Linked DNA regions of Homo sapiens: region 2 is linked to region 1. Evidence: fine-mapped expression QTL. A gene starts in region 1. The other region holds a variant in brackets. All regions are shown on one strand. Distances are between the middles of the regions.

Region 1 (2,927 bases):
TTACACTTGCTACAAAATGTATTAAAGAAACAGACAATTTGCTAAGGATTTGGAAGGATTTGTCATTGGGTTAAGTACATTAAGTATCTAAGGGGTGTGGTGTTCTGGTTATGTGTATGTCAGTTTCACATATTTTTTTGCTTTCTTATTTTAGTTGCCTCTATAATCATTTTGACTTTAAAATGTTTTCTGCAGATCCTTTAATAACTGCAAATGTAGAAGTATGGTGTAACAAGTAATTGGTATGACTAACACTAAAATGTAATGGGAAATAAGGATACTATTGTAAAGAAAACAAGAAAAACCTGGGGTAGGGGAGCAGTATTGATTCTCTCTTAGGATTCCTAAGATTCTCTGTCCCAACCCTTCTACCATGGAACATTCTTATGTGGTCTAAGTGTCAAAGACCAGAGGAACTGGGCAGTAACTTATCTTCTCAATTTTCTCTCTGAACATAGATATTTTCTTTAAGATACGAAAAACTTTTAATTGTGCTCCTGAAACCCATCCCTGTCCTGTCTCAGCCCCGTTGACTCTTCTTTCTGTGGGTGGGTGAAAAGCCTACCCATCTGCAAAGGTAGCTCTGAAACTGTTCTGGAAAATCCTGTATTTTCCTCCACAAATGATCGTTTTAGTTTCAAGTTTATTTCAGGTACATTAATTCTCCCCCTCCTCAGACTTCATAACAAATGATCCTGCACACGATTAGAATAGGAAAATGTAAAATAAAATCGAAGCATATCTAGTTGCCTCAGCGACTTTATGCTTATCACTTTCAGTCTGCATTATTCTACTAAAAATAAAAAGAAAGATGAAAATTACCTCAGGCGTTTGCTGCCGTGCCTGCCCTTTGGTTTCTGGGACGGCTCGGGTCCCGTAGCGCCGGCACAGCTGAGATTGCCAAGCCGGGAAGAGACCTTGCTCCAGGTGTAGCTGCGTTTTCCCCAGATCACCTGTCCTTTTCCCCTCCGACAAGGAAGCTGTGATTTTTCTCTGGCCTTTAGAGGCAAAGTGATTCCAGATAAGTAGATTAATGTGTAGAATATCTCATCTGTGTTGTTCCAGTGCAGCCCTTTCAGCTTTCCAGAGCCAGTTAGACTTGTTATGAGGAGCTAAGTGATTGGCTGGCTCTGGAGCTCAGTTTCATAGATTATAGCCCAGCGTACGAGAAGCACGAGTCCTATAGTTGGCGTACCCTGAGGCCTGCCAGTTCCTGCCTTAATGCATATGTAGTCGTAATTGAGTTCTGACACGGCCTTGGATGTTTCTGTCCTAAATAGCTGACATTGCATCTTCAAGACTGTGTGAGTAATCCTGATATTTTTTTTTTAAGCTCAGTAAATTAATTACATGCCCTGGGAGGGAGTGATTGTAAGTAGAAAATACTGAACTAGCAGATGATTCGTTTTTAAGGTGCTATACTATGTGTATCAAGTTCAAGACGATGAATCTTAAAGCTTCTAAGAACTGGCAGGGTTATTCCAGCTTTGTGCCATGAATCACAGTCAAGCTGCATTTTGAAGGAGGCTGTTTGATGCATTTGCTAGCTCTGTTTGTTTTATGGGGTCAGTAAAGTGGCAGAGGTCCAACAGGAGCAGGTTAAAGCAGGATGCTGGGATCAAAGCTTAGAGAGCACTTGAGTCAGGCAAGTTTTAAGTTTTCCCACCCCCAAGCATCTCAGTCCAAAACTGAGAGCAAGCAGCAAATATTATAATAAATGCTTTGGGGACAGGGGTACACAGCAGATAGGGCACAGTAACAGGAGAAATGTAAAATGATGGCAGCAATACTTTTGTTCACTGTAATCTGCAGCCAATTGAAGACATACACTATGAATAACTAAAACATTTTTATATGAACAAAAATGCTCTTCAGTGGTTCTGTTTATGTGGTAGAGGGCTGAATGAAAAACCATGCGCTTGTTGTAAAAAAGCCTTATAAAAAGTACATTAAACACATACAGACACAACCATAACAGAAGAAAGTATGTGGATTGGAATTTGTGATTGGAGCAGATCAAATTAAGCCAGGGAAGCCGTTATTAGGTTTGTATGATTGCTGGGGGGTAACTTCTGTTGCTGACAAGGTTTAGGATAAAGCTGGAGCAGATTGAAGTGGAAAACCAGAAAACATCAGCATTTCATTACCTTCTATAGCATACACTGCAGGGTAGAATTAATACTGAGTATAGACTGGTAAATGTGAGCAGTTTACTGTTTGCTTTTAAATCATTATTGATTTCCCCTAGCCTATCATAAAAAATAATAGGGCTTTTGCCTATGAAATTAGTGCTTAGAAATATTTTTCTTCCTCCCAAATAATTTTTATACTTTTTCTCAATACAGCACAAAGGTAGGTCATTAAAAATAAAGGGGTTCCTTTTCAAGTTGCTTTTTGTCTAATTTTTCCTCTTTAGACCTGTAGATACAAATGTATGTATTTGTGCTATGTATAACTCTCAAGCATAAATCATTTGAACAGTATTTAAAATCACAGGCTCCTGTGGCAAATATAAACTTTTAATAGCTATAGTTGGCAATTACTTGCCAATTCCTATAAAAATAACATTAGTGGCTTATTTTTGATTGCACCTAAACAACTGGCATGATTTAGCCAGTAGGAGAGAAATATTAGTTGTGTTTTGCATAATTTTGTGTTTAGATCACACTGGAAATACAAAGTTTTGTTGTTAAAAATATTTTTGCTTTCTGAAATATTATCCCCTTTCAGATCACACCAATGAATGAAGTTTGTAGAAAGAAAGAAAAGTAGCCAACGTAGACTCCTTTTCTGTATCAATCAAATATATGCAAAATACATAGATTTTTAAAAATGTAATTTTAATACATTCCTTTAGAAACACATTTACTTCATGAAGAAACAGTATAATGAGTTCATTTATTGACCCAGAATAGTGAGTTGATTTA
Region 2 (2,927 bases), 54 kb before region 1:
AAACATACTATGCTATATAAGAATCCTCTAGAGATGTAACTGTAACACCAAGATCAAAGCACAGGGGACTGTATCAATGCATTTCCCTGCAGAAGATAGGACTCTATAAAGTGAAGGGCAAGTAGCATGTGGAAGAGGAAGGACACTGGGAAGAGCCCTAACTGCTGACGGGAGAGCCTAGTCCAGCTCTGGTCCTTCACTGGTCACTGTGAGATCTTAGGCAAATCACTTGCTTTTCTGGGCCTTCATTTTCTCATCTGGAACTGAGGTAATCGAATTAGACCCTTCTTTAAGTCCTAAGATTCCAAAATCTCCAATGCAGGCACATATTAATATTGTACCAGGTAGCCTTTGTCCTACATTGAATTGTAGGTATAGTTTGTGCATATTTGTCTCCCATCCAAAAGTCTGCAGATTCACTAAGGAAGTCAGTTAAGGGCCAATCGGGGGATTTGAAGGATTCAGAGCTACAGGAGCTATTCTTTATTCCTGGGTAACTCTAAGCCAGAAGATGGAGAAGCTCACCTAAAAGCTCTGCCATCAGGTGTGTGGGTGGTGTTGTACTATGGTGTGGAGAGAGGAGAATGTCTCAGGAGACCAGGTAAGGGTTCCTATGATTGCAGAACCAACCAAAGAGCCTTGGAGGCACCAATGATGATGATTTTCTCTAGTTCTTCAAAAGCCAGGAACTGGGCCATATTGTTTTCTTTGAAAGAAAAGAAAAATAAGTGAAAATGCTTCACAGAATATTTTATAGCAACACACTTCTCTGGATTAATTAATAGTTTTAGAAGATGGAGGTAAAGAGCTCATCTGTATAAAGGTCTGAAGATGCACATATCATCTTGGAAAAAAAGAGGCTGTTATTCCATCATTTCCACATACACGGTTTTGTTACAAATATAATTGAAAATTCAAGTCTTTCAAAAATAGAATACATGGGTACTGGAGATTAGGTCACACATAATCAAATTCTAAATTTCTTTTCCAGCAAAGTCGTCCCTACTGAGGTCAGAGTACAAAGAAGAGGGGATGGTAGGCTAAACGCCAAATGAATGAAAAGGGAAGATTTTTCAGGCAGGGAGTCATTAGTCTTGTCACATGCTGCTGATATGAAAGGACTGACCACTGGATTGAGCAACATGAAGGCATGTGACCTCAATACAAGCTTTTTCTGTGGTTGGAATGAGATAAAAGAGAACAGGGAGAGAAGTGGAGTCACCAAGTGAGGACAACTCTTTGAAGGAGGTTTGTGGACCATTTGTTGTTATACAGAGGGAAATGCACAGGGGATTTTATGATGAGGGAACAGCTCTGTTTAAGAACTGGGTGTAATTGCTTTTGAGTCCACAGAGAGTCAAGGTTCTCTGTGATTTAATTATTCAGGAAAGAGGCTTCCTAGAAAGTTTACACTTTCTTCAAAGAAAGTCAGTTTCTCTCATTTGCATGTCTCTCATTTCTAAGTGACTTAATGAAAATTCCTTTCCCCACTAACTTGAGTTTTATATACCTTGTATGGAGTAGACATAAGAAGTGCTGGTTGGCCTGTTTTGGTGCAGGACAGGATCCCACAAAAAGAAATTTCAGCCTTGTAACCTTTCTTCCTTTGACTTTCTGTGATTAGTTTCCTTAGTGTCTGGTAACAGCTCTGGTTCCTTTGCTGTAGTGTGGTGAGCCTCATCTCTTCAAACAAATTGGTTCACAGG[C/T]TGGGGGATGGTGGGCGGGAGGGATGAAATCATTGTTTTGCTTCAATGTCGGTTCTCCCCTGAGAGGTCTTTCACAGCAAGGGAGTCTGTATTTTTAGAATTAGCATGTTCTGTTTCAATGTTGTGAACATTCATTTTAAACCTACTATATTTAGCAGAGGTTTAATTACCCAAATTGGGAAACTAGTTTTAAACCGTCACCTTCTACTTGGTTAATCAAAACAGTCCCTACCACCAGCAGGGGAGACTGGCAATTTCAGTCATACAGCCACACCTGGTGAGGGCAACTGACAAAAGCAATTCCATTGCCTGAGTTCAGCATCTTCAGCACCCATCCAGCCCTGTTGTAGCCCCTCTTTCTTTCAGTAAGACTTTCCTGCAATATACCCTCTGTGGACTAGGGCTGGGGGGATGTGTCTGCTCTGATGTCTGTGGGGAGTGTCTTTTCTTCCCACACAAAAATCGTGATTATATTTTCCAAAATAGCACTCAGGAAACAATCTCTCTGTGGCATTTACAGATATGTGAGATGTTGAGGAACTGCGGTCTGAATGATGAAATTTCTTGGATTTTTCAGCAATGTCATTTTTTCCTTCATTTACTCACTCACTTCTGGAAGGGCCAGTCTGAGAGCTGGGCTGAGGAGTCCAAGGCTGATGCAGTCATGGATGAGTCTGAGGCAGGGAGACCACTAGCAGGAGAATGGGCAGTGCCAACTGGCTTTAAAAATACTCAGATACAAATATGAATTTTGCACATCCATTTAGTCATTTGGCAAATATTTATTGATTGGTTGTGGGATAAGCCATAGAGCCTGACACTAGTTTAGTGAGAGAGATACACAGGAATAGGAAAAAAATTATCATAATAAATGCACAGCTACAGAGCGAGAGCTCTGAAGGATCATTTTATGAGTATGCGTAACAGGAACCTGATGTGATTGATCAGTGAAGCAAATTGGTGCTTGAACTGAGATCCACAGTGGTGCTTCCCAAATTTTATGTGCATATGAATATCTGGGGATCTTGTTAAATGCAGATTCCTGTGCTGCTTCTGGGGCTTGGGGAGGAGCCTAAAATTCTGCATCTCTAATAAGCTGCCATGTGATGCTGATGCTGCTGGTACCAAAGATTCTAAAGGACAAACATAACGGAAAGCAGGGGTTGGGGGAAATAAGTTTCACAGGGAGGGAACAGTTATACACAGCAAGAACATAGTCTG

Alleles and levels. Positions count from the first base shown, and alleles are read on the strand shown. Sizes are in standard deviations (SD) of each study's normalised expression.
In carriers of allele C in region 2, the expression in aorta of the gene that starts at base 1,533 in region 1 tends to be higher than with T alone (small effect, 0.25 SD a copy in GTEx).

The links.
Region 2: its variant is fine-mapped to the expression of PART1 in aorta (GTEx, PIP above 0.99).

The regions. Positions count from the first base shown.
Region 1 is chr5:60,486,319-60,489,245 of GRCh38, reverse strand. PART1 (prostate androgen-regulated transcript 1) reads right to left here and starts at 1,533. Exons shown (of 4, transcript NR_024617.1): 1 at 823-1,533. It also overlaps a transcript of PDE4D not described here.
Region 2 is chr5:60,540,429-60,543,355 of GRCh38, reverse strand. The region is part of intron 3 of PART1 (prostate androgen-regulated transcript 1); the gene reads right to left. Among named protein-coding and RNA genes, the nearest start is that of PART1, 54 kb to the right of the region's middle. The variant C/T (reference allele first, on the strand shown) is at 1,707.